2 separate regions of the Homo sapiens genome follow, and region 1 is linked to region 2. The links come from fine-mapping of genetic effects on gene expression. A gene starts in region 2. The other region holds a variant in brackets. All regions are shown on one strand. Distances are between the middles of the regions.

Region 1 (5,215 bases), 670 kb after region 2:
GAAGGACTGTGTGACCAGGTCTCCACAGCCCTCAGTGTCCACTGGGGCTTGGCCAGGGGCCGCACATGACTCAGATTCTTCTGCCTGGGTCTCTGCCTCCCGCAGGAGGGGATGGGCAGGAGCCCCATCCTGGGGCAGGCAGCACTGGCCAGGAGGGGCCACAGAGGTTTCAGCCAGCATGTGTTTCAGTAGGACCCAGTGAGTGCTGGCTCCGCTTACACAGTGGTGAGCAGAGGCATTCGACACGTAAGGGCATGGACAGTGGCGAGTGCCGTGAAGAAAACAGAAGAGGTTGAGGAGCAGGCAGTGACGAGGTACAGGGTACTGGGAGGGCAAGGCCTGGTGAGGTCTAGAAACCAGACATGCAGATGCTACAACACCTTGGAAGCTTGGCCGGGGCAGCAAGATGCAGTCATGGCAGTGCCTGGGGCTGGCGCCACACAAGGCCCCAGAGCAGGTAGCCAAGAACCGACCAGTCCGCTCCTCCACACTAAGGGCATACAGGGTCGGTCACTGGAGATTAGACAGGAGTTTTGAAGAGGATCCTTTGGAGAGAGCGAGAGCCCGCCCCTCACCTCCAACCCAGTGAGAGGGACTTTTGTGGCCCCTCGGATATACGCTCCTTCAAGCAATGACATCTGGGTTCTTTGTGGGCGGAAGCCCACGGCCTGCAGTAGGGGTGGAGGCAGAGAGATGGAAAGCTCAGTCCGTGTTGGGAGCAGGAGTGGGGGTGTGAGCAACAGCGGGCAGCCAGGACCGGGTGAGTGATGGGGTCTCAGAGTGGATTGCTGAAAAGCTGGTGGCAGCGGGTGGGGCAGCGTGGGGGCACTCCAGCTTGAGGAGAAATGGCTTTGTCTGTGCCTGGAAAAGCAGGCGGAGTCAAATGGAGCTTTGGGAGAACACACGGATGAGCCTGGGGAGAGACGAGTCGGCAGTAAATTCCTGTTAGGTCCAGAGAGGTGAGATCATCTCAGGACAGCACCGCACGAGGAATAACAGCTGTCCCTTCTCCCTCCCCTGCTGTGATAGTGCTGGGTACAGGGGAGCAAAGAGGGGCCGTGTCTTTCTCTTCCACTGAAAGCAACCAGCTGTGGCAGGCCAGCCAGCGAGAGTGGGTATTGTCATGGTGAAGCATGTCAGTTTGATGGCCAGCTGAGACTGAGACTGGACACTTTCTTTTTTTTTTGAGACAGAGTCTTGCTTTGTCTCCCATGCTGGAATGCGATGGCACGATTTTGGCTCACTGCAACCTCTGCCTCCTTGGTTCAAGTGATTCTCATGCCTCAGCCTCCTAAGTAGCTGGGATTACAGGCACGAGCCACCCCATCCAGCTAATTTTTGTATTTTTAGTGGAGACAGGGTTTCGCCATGTTGGCCAGGCTGGTCTTGAACTCCTGACCTCAAGTGATCTACCTGCCTCAGCCTCCCAAAGTGCTGGGATGACAGGCATGAGCCACCACACCTGGCCTGAACACTTTCAACTGCCGAGTTGAAACTGTATTTTCCACTTGAAAGTGGCTGTAGAACTTCGCCTTACCCAGGAGCTGTCAGAATGGTCATGGGCTTGTCCAAATTATCATCTAGGGGCATGGGAAGGATTTCTCCAATGACCATGTTTGGAGGCGCAGTGGAGGTAAATCATGTTGCTTTATGATTATGCACGTATGCTTTGCTTATGTTCATTGTACTAGTTCCGTGAAGATCCAAGTTTGAAAGTGTTCAGATCCATAGCTGCATTTTGATGCTAGCACAAACAGGCCTTGCTCATAGAGTGGATGTGAGAGAAGGAGAAGTCTCAACGATGATGTGACTTGAGGCACTGAGAAAGGTGATGCCATTTACTAAGAAAGGGAGAATCGGGAGACACGAATTTACTTAGTTTTGTTATAGCAGAGGGTGGTGGCGGAACTCCAGGATTCTGTTTTGGCTCTGCAAAACTTTAGATAACTATTTTCATACAAGTGGAGATCTTGGGTGTGTAGGTGGGTGTTTGAGAGGGAATTCAGAGGGAACAGCAGGCTGATGAGCATTTGAAGTACTTGACTCATGGACAGTGTTTAAAACTATGTGAGAGGATGAGATCACCTGGGTAATAAGTGCAGATGGAGAAAAGAAGGCCCAAGGCTGATACTGGGGAGAATTCCAGCACTCAGAGGTCCAGTAGGAAAGCAGGAGCCACGAAAGAGATGGGGCTGGAGCTTTTAAGGGGGCAGGAAAAACACCACGACCACACAGCATCCCGGGAGCAGAGTAAAGCGTTCGGAGAACATGGTCAGCACCACGGCCGCGCAGCATCCTGGGAGCAGAGTAAAGCGTTCGGAGAACATGGTCAGCACCACGGCCGCGCAGCATCCTGGGAGCAGAGTAAAGCGTTCGGAGAACATGGTCAGCACCACGACCGCACAGCATCCTGGGAGCAGAGTAAAGTGTTCGGAGAACATGATCAGCACTGCAGCCGCGCAGCATCCTGGGAGCAGAGTAAAGCGTTCGGAGAACACCATCAGCACCGTGACCGCACAGCATCCTGGGAGCAGAGTAAAGCGTTCGGAGAACATGATCAACACCACGACCGCACAGCATCCTGGGAGCAGAGTAAAGCGTTCGGAGAACCTGATCAGCACCACGACCGCACAGCATCCTGGGAGCAGAGTAAAGCGTTCGGAGAACACGATCAGCACCACGACCGCACAGCATCCTGGGAGCAGAGTAAAGCGTTCGGAGAACACGATCAGTACCGCGATCACACAGCGTCCTGGGAGCAGAGTAAAGCGTTCGGAGAACACGATCAGCACCACGACCGCACAGCATCCTGGGAGCAGAGTAAAGTGTTTGGAGAACATGATCAGCACTGCAGCCGCGCAGCATCCTGGGAGCAGAGTAAAGCGTTCGGAGAACATGGTCAGCACCACGACCGCACAGCATCCTGGGAGCAGAGTAAAGTGTTCGGAGAACACGATCAGCACCGCGACCGCACAGCATCCTGGGAGCAGAATAAAGCATTCGGAGAACATGATCAGCACCACGACCGCACAGCATCCTGGGAGCAGAGTAAAGCGTTCGGAGAACATGATCAGCACCGCGATCACACAGCATCCTGGGAGCAGAGTAAAG[T/C]GCTCGGAGAACATGATCAACACCACACCGCACAGCATCCTGGGAGCAGAGTAAAGCGTTCGGAGAACATGATCAGCACCACGACCGCAAAGCATCCTGGGAGCAGAGTAAAGCGTTCGGAGAACATGATCAGCACCACGACCGCACAGCATCCTGGGAGCAGAATAAAGTGCTCGGAGAACATGATCAGCACCGCGATCACACAGCATCCTGGGAGCAGAGTAAAGCGTTCGGAGAACATGATCAACACCACACCACACAGCATCCTGGGAGCAGAGTAAAGCGTTCGGAGAACATGATCAGCTGGGCCAGATGTTGCTGGAGGTCAAGGAAGATGGGAAGCCCGGACTGTTGCGTTTGATAAGAGGAAGGTTGTTGGTAAACTTGGCAAGGGCGGTCTCAGTGGTGGGACAACGCCCTGGAATGCGTGGGTTACAGGGAGGAGGAGGTGAGGAAATCAGGGTGGCAACCGCAGATGACTCTTGGAGGGAGCAGAGCAGTGGGAAGTAACTGCAGGGAGACAGGGGTTAAGGGAATGGGCTTTTAAAAAATTAAACTTTTAATTTAAGATAATTGTAGATTCACATGCAGTAGTGAGAAATACAGAAATAGCTCATGCATCCTTTACCCTTTTCTCCCAGTGGTGACAACCTGCAAAACTATAGTCAGGGTCACAGTTAGGATATTGATGTTGATACATCAGTATCAATGATGTTGACACAGTGAAGACGTAGAGCATCTCCATCCCTGCAGGGGTCCCTCCTGCTGCCCTTTTGTGGTCACACCCGCATCTCTCCTGCCCTCGCCCCCTCCTTAATCCCCGGCAACCACTAATCTGTTTGCCATATCTATAATTTAGTCATTTTGAGAATGTTACGTGGACAAAACCACACCAAATGTAACCTTTTGGTACTGGCTGCTTTCACTCAAACAAAATTCTCTGGAGGTTCACCCAGGTGTTGGTAGCATGTTTCCTTTTACTGCCAGGTAGTATTGAGTGGTGCCAGGTGTCAATTTGTGGTGCCAGGTAGTATTCCGTGGTGCCAGGTGGTATTCCGTGGTGCCAGGTGGTATTCCGTGGTGCCAGGTGGTATTCCATGGTGCCAGGTGGTATTCCGTGGTGCCAGGTGGTATTCCATGGTGCCAGGTGGTATTCCATGGTGCCAGGTAGTATTCCGTGGCTCCAGGTGGTATTCCGTGGTGCCAGGTAGTATTCCGTGGCTCCAGGTGGTATTCCGTGGCACCAGGTGGTATTCCGTGGTGCCAGGTAGTATTCCATGGCTCCAGGTGGTATTCCGTGGCTCCAGGTGGTATTCCGTGGTGCCAGGTAGTATTCCGTGGTGCCAGGTGGTATTCCCTGGTGCCAGGTGGTATTCCGTGGTGCCAGGTAGTATTCCGTGCTATGGCTGTACCATGGCTTGTTTAACCGTTCACCTGTGGAAGCTTCCAATTTGGGGTTATTATGAATAGAGTTGCTGTACACATTTTTGTGCAAACATAAGTTTTCATTTCTCTGGGATAAATGCCAAAGAGTGCAAATTTCTAGGTATAGTAGTTGCATGCTTAGTTTTTTAAGAAACCAAAGCTTTTCCAGAGGGCTACACTCTTTTACATTTCCACCAGTGGTGTGTGAATAGTTCAGTTTTTGTGCATTCTGGCCAGTGTTTGGTGGTGACACTTTTTTATTTTAGCCATTCTGATAGGGGTATAGTGACACATCACTGGTTTTAATTCGCATGTCCTAACAGTGAGTGGTGTTGAGCATCTTTCTGGACTTATTTGCCATCTGTGTATCTTTGGTGAAACGTCTCTTCACATCTTTTGCCCATGTTCTGTTTGAATTGTTCTTTATATATTCTAGGAACTGGTTCTTTGTCATATATATGGTTTGCAAATATTTTCTCCTAGTCAGTAGCTTATCTTTTCATACTTTTCACCTGGTCTTTCATGGAACAAATGTTTTTAAAATTTGATCGAGTCCAGTTTATCAATTTATCCTTTTGTGGATTGGGCTTTTGGTGTCAACTGTAAGAACTCTGCCTAGTCCTGAATCCTGAAGATTTTCTTTTTTTTTTTCTAAAAGTTGTATTGTTTTATATTTTAC
Region 2 (5,215 bases):
GGCGGTGGCCGCAGGGCATGGCAGACTTTGTGGTTCCAGAGCGAAAGCCCCTTCACGCAGAAAGCTGACTTCGACCAAGAGCAAAAGGTTGGGGGCTGGGCAGGAAGGGGGCGGGGAGTCCACGCAGGCAGGGGGCTGGGGGTTCCAGTGGGGCCAAAGGGGGGCTGGCTGAGGGTCCGTGGGGAGCACCCTGCCCTGCAGCCCGTCTCCTACCCCCTCGCAGTGGCCCTCGCCAGCCCACTACCAGCTGCTCAGCCGGCCCGCCTTCCCCGCCTTCAGCTTCAGAGGCTGCCACTCCGCTTCCAAGACACCTGAAGGCCACACCCACCTAGGGCTGCCTGGGGCTAGGGGGCTGGGCCTCAGGGTGCAGCCCCAGTCCCTGCTTCAGGCCTCTTTGCAGGCACCTGGCAAGAGATGCCCTGGCCCCAACACCTACAATATCCTTCCTGGGAGCCGCCTGCAGAGCCCCCGCTCGCCGGCCTTCTCGATGAGCCGCTCCCCTGCGTTCACCTCCTGGCTCAGCACCTGTAAGGAGGCCTGGAGAGAAGAGGGCTAGGGATGGGGCATGGGTGGGCAATGTGAGGACAAGGGTTCAGGGGCCGGGGGTGGGAACTGGGAGCCAGGTTTGAGTTGGGGCTGCTACCTGGGTGGGGCTCCCAGCCTTCTCTTTCGGCAGCCCGAACCCCTGGCCCAGCCGCCTACCACGTGGAGGACTGCAACTCACGCTTCCCTTCGGCGCCTGGCGTGGTCATCCAGGGTGTACGCAGACCCAAGCGCCACGACACAGGCCCCTTCTGCACGCTCTAGAGCCAGCTGGGCACAACCTGCTTGGCCCGGCCACCGAGTGGAACCATGGCCTCCCCCGGGGCTTTCCCAGGCCTCCCCTGGGACTTGGGGCCCCAGCCTGGCCTTCTGACCCTCTGGGCACCCCGATGCACCCTTCTGGCTGGCCAACCCTTCTATGGGCTGTGGACAAGGCTGGCCCAGCCTGGATCCCCCATCTGCCCATCTCCCCGCTACACTGAGATGCTGTTGGTTTTCCCGAGCTCTGTGGTGTGCAGTTGTCTGTCCTTCACCCGGGGGCGGTCCTAGAGATATGGCTGCCGCTGGGTCATTTCCGGCTTTCCCTGTTGAGGGGTCTCCATTCAGCTGCCCCTGAAAGGTGCTCTCTTCTCTAGGGTGGCAGCCTGTGACTGACCCTGAGCTCTAGCCTGGAGCGAGATGGGAGGTGGGCTCTGTGGGACACCCCCACCCAGCCGTGTCACTCAGGGGCCTGGTCTAGCTGCTGTCCACCTGAGGGTCAGCTGCTTGCCGAGCCAGGGAACTGGGAAGGAGGCGTCAAATGCCCTGAGCCGCCACCTCCAGGTGGGGTCGGCCTGGCCAGACCTCAGGAAGGGCCCAGGGATCTGCTCACCAGGGCCCAGCCCCACTTCCCCTAGGCCTTGAGCTGAAGACCTGGCTGGGCTTAGTCACCTGTGCCCTGAACACTCTGGCCCAGGGCCCTGCAGACTCCACTCCCGGGGCCTTCACCTGCTGGGACCCTGCACTGCCCCTGCCTGCAACTTCGCCTGGCTGGGGCCTCCCTTGTCATCACTGGCCTGCCCTCCTACCCAGGGTCGGGCCCCAAGGCTGCCACCTTGCAGGAGCCTTACCTGCGGTGCCGTCACCCGCACCTCCCCAGGTCCTCCCCAGACCCAGGACCCAGACCAGGCCCAGAGCTCAACCCCTTCAAAAAGGCTCTGGGCAGCTGCTTCTGTGGCCTCAGCACCACCCCCTTTCTCAGAGAGGAATCCCAGGCTCAGGATTGTGTGTGTGCTGTGACCCTTGTCCTCCTCTGCCACCGAACCAGCTGGGGGTTGGATCAAGGCACTGGAACCCTCGCCCTAGGGCTGACCAACTTGGCCAGCGGCAAGAGAGCTGTGGTAGCCATGGCCTTGGGAGCTCGGCCCGGCTTGTGGGAACAGGAGCTCTGCTCACGGCTGCACCACCAGGCACCCCTGGTGAGACCCAAAGCTAGGAGTGGGAGCGGCAGGAAAGATGGAGCGATCTCCTCCAGCTGGGCTGAGGAGGGAGGGCTTCCTGGAGGAGGTGGTGGAGGAAGAAGCCTTCAAGGAAGAGCAAGAGTTTGCTGGGCAGCGGGAAAGAAATTTCTAGAGAAAATTTCAGCAGCGGAGACCGAAAAGAGAGAGGGTGTGTGTAGGGGGCTTGGCGCGGCACAGCCTGCGGGAGGGCGGCGGGCTGGAGAGGCGGGGAGGCCCGGGGAGCCCACCCGCCTGGGATAAGAAGGGACACTGTGGAACCTGGACTCTCCTTCACGGCTCCGCGGAGCTCGGTGGGCGCCACAGCCTCCCGGTGCCTGGGAGGGCGGCCGTCGCTCGCGCTCCCGCTGCGGGCCCGGTCTCCGCCAGGCCCCGGCCCCCTGAAGGCGCTCAGATCTCAGTTTTGGCGACAGCGCCGGGGTGGGCTTCGTGCCCGTTTCACGCGGAGGAACCCACGCTCAGGAGGGAGTCTGCGCCTGTGTCCGGCCCCTGCGGGGCAGAGGGGCGGGGAGCTCAACCCCCGGCAAAACGTCCCCGCTGCGCGTGGCTGCCGCGAGATCTGCAAGAGCGTTTTCCACGCTTATGTACACGAAATTCACTCGGCTGCGACGACGTCCGTTCCCGGAGCAGACGGACCCTGAGTCCGCCCCCCACGCCCTCACCCGCCCTCTTCTGCCAGAAAGCCCGGGCGCGGGCGGGACCGGGTGGGCGCATGCGCGCTGGGCTGGCTGGGCGGGGTCTCTCGCGCCGGGTGAGGGCGCTGCTCCCAGGAACCTGCGCGCGGCCCCGGCGGCGTTTCCCGGGGGCCGGTTGGCGGGCGGACCTGGGCGGTGCGGGGCGGAAGTGGGCGGCTGCGGGACGCGCGCGGAGTCGCGCGGCGGGCGGGACCTGGCCGAGCTGGAGGGCGCCGGGGAGCGGGGCTCGGGCGGTCCCCGAGGCCCGGCGGAGCGGGCTTCTGGGGTGTCTGCGGCGGCGCCGGGGGAACGGGCTGGGGATGGGGCGCCTAGCCGGGCGGTGGCCGGGGCCTCGGCCATGTTCGCGGGGCTGCAGGACCTGGGCGTGGCCAACGGCGAGGACCTGAAGGAGACCCTGACCAACTGCACGGAGCCGCTCAAGGCCATCGAGCAGTTCCAGGTGGGGCGGCCCCCGGGGCGGGGGGAGCCCAGTTGGAGGGCCGGGCCGCCTGCTCGGGAGTCGGGCCTGGCGGAGGCGCCGGAAGTTTTCCGGCTTTCTGCTGGTGGCTGAGTCCTGTTCTGGGGGTGGAGTCCGGAGCCAGCACCCCTTTGCTGGACGGCTGGGTGGCTTTCGGTGGCTGCGGTTACCGCCAGCACGGCTGGGAACACCTGGGTGCGTGCCTCCCTGTGCTCTCAGGACCTCGGGGTGCCCGGGCGCACTGGGCTGCGTTTGAGGTTTCTCTTGGCTTCCTCAGACAGAGAATGGTGTGCTGCTGCCATCTCTTCAGTCAGCCCTCCCCTTCTTGGACCTGCACGGGACGCCGCGGCTGGAGTTCCACCAGTCGGTATTCGATGAGCTGCGGGACAAGCTGCTGGAGCGAGTGTCAGCCATCGCTTCGGAGGGGAAGGCTGAGGAAAGGTGGGTCAGCGGGAGGGGTGGGCAGGTGAGATGTGCAGCCGGCCTCTCAGCCTTGGATCGACTCAGGGGCATTTATTGTCCTTTTGGCTCCACATCCTTGCTCCCAGAGGTGGCCTGGGCCTGTGTCTGAGTGACCCCTTGACCCATGTGTCCTGGGCGTGGAGGCTTGTCCTGGTAGCTGTTATCTGTGTAGGGACAGGCAGGTAGCTGCTGCGATTTGGCGCATCGCTGCACCATCAATCCTGTGAGTTGTTCCAGGTACAAGAAGCTGGAAGACCTTCTGGAGAAGAGCTTTTCTCTGGTGAAGATGCCGTCCCTGCAGCCCGTGGTGATGTGCGTCATGAAGCACCTGCCCAAGGTAGGGCCCTAACCCTAACCCTGATGGCGTGGACCGTCCGCCCACTCTCATGCCCTTGGTTAGTGGAAGTTCCGGTGGCCGCCTAGCTCCGGGAGCTTCCTGTGCTGCCTGCCCAAGTGCTGTCCATGGTGAGCTCTGTGCTGACTTCTCCCACATGAGCCGCGTGGAGACCGAACCTTAGCACTGGAGTTAGGGTGTGGGGCCCCTCCTGGGAAAGAGCTGTTGGTATTTAGCATGTCTGTCTGACATGCTGGGGCCGGGGAACCAGTCATAGGTGCCCTGTGGGGTGGAGCTTAGCTCGAGGTGGTCTCTGCGGGGCTGAGGCCTCTTGGCTTGTCTTGAAGGAGACCCAGGGACACAGGTGCCACTCACAGGCAGCCTGTGGTGTCATGTAGGTTCCGGAGAAAAAACTGAAGCTGGTTATGGCTGACAAGGAGCTGTATCGAGCCTGCGCCGTGGAGGTGAAGCGGCAGATCTGGCAAGACAACCAGGCCCTCTTCGGGGACGAGGTTTCCCCACTCCTGAAGCAGTACATCCTGGAGAAGGAGAGCGCTCTCTTCAGTACAGAGCTCTCTGTCCTGCACAACTTTTTCAGTCCTTCCCCCAAGACCAGGCGCCAGGGCGAGGTGAGGGGACAGGCCGTGTGCGGGGTGGGGCACCTCTTGGGGATGCCACGGCTAGCGCCTTCAGCTGCCTGGGGATCAGCACTCTGCTGCCCTGTGAATGATCGGGTGGTTCTGCTTCTTGGCTGGGTGGTGGGGGAGGGCTGGCTTGTACACATGCTGGAAAGAAAGTTGGTTGTTTTTCTGTTTGCATTTTACTTTTCGTTAAAGTGATATATGGACAACATTTAAAATCTGCGGAAAGCCCGCTCATGTGAAGTTAATCCCCCCTCCCCTACTTTTTTTCTTTTTCTTTGAGACGGAGTCTCGCTCTGTTGCCCAGGCTGGAGTGCAGTGGTGTGATCTCGGCTCACTGCAAGCTCCCGGGTTCACTCCATTCTCCTGCCTCAGTCTCCCGAGTAGCTGGGACTACAGGCGCCCGCCACCATGCCTGGCTAATTTTTTTTCTTTTTCTTTTTTTTTTTTTTTGAGACGGAGTTTCGCTATTGTTGCCCAGGCTGGAGTGCAATGGCGTGATCTCGGCTCACTGCGACCTCCGCCTCCCAGGTTCAAGCAATTCTCCTGCCTCAGCCTCCCGAGTAGCTGGGATTACAGGCATGCAT

Which allele goes with the higher level. Alleles are on the strand shown, and positions count from the first base shown. SD is a standard deviation of normalised expression in the study named.
As copies of T replace C in region 1, the expression in naive CD8 T cells of the gene that starts at base 2,889 in region 2 goes down (moderate effect, 0.73 SD a copy in Schmiedel 2018).

The links. PIP is the estimated chance that this variant, and not a neighbour inherited with it, causes the effect. A credible set is the group of variants that fine-mapping cannot tell apart.
Region 1: its variant is the best candidate, but not a certain one, in a credible set for the expression of NELFB in naive CD8 T cells (Schmiedel 2018, PIP 0.56).

What each region holds. Positions count from the first base shown.
Region 1 is chr9:137,919,029-137,924,243 of GRCh38, forward strand. The region is part of intron 6 of CACNA1B (calcium voltage-gated channel subunit alpha1 B); the gene reads left to right. Among named protein-coding and RNA genes, the nearest start is that of CACNA1B-AS1, 25 kb to the right of the region's middle. The variant T/C (reference allele first, on the strand shown) is at 3,112.
Region 2 is chr9:137,252,439-137,257,653 of GRCh38, forward strand. NELFB (negative elongation factor complex member B) reads left to right here and starts at 2,889. Exons shown (of 13, transcript NM_015456.5): 1 at 2,889-3,173; 2 at 3,469-3,632; 3 at 3,891-3,990; 4 at 4,386-4,616. The coding sequence starts at 2,928. It overlaps STPG3 (sperm-tail PG-rich repeat containing 3), which reads left to right. Exons shown (of 6, transcript NM_001004353.4): 4 at 1-87; 5 at 224-527; 6 at 677-1,045. The coding sequence ends at 807. It overlaps STPG3-AS1 (STPG3 antisense RNA 1), which reads right to left and starts at 1,059. Exons shown (of 4, transcript NR_038389.1): 1 at 725-1,059; 2 at 437-537; 3 at 1-68. It also overlaps a transcript of CIMIP2A not described here. RefSeq lists silencers at 2,257-2,436, 2,627-2,996, 3,007-3,186, 3,227-3,286 and enhancers at 2,297-3,244, 3,245-4,192.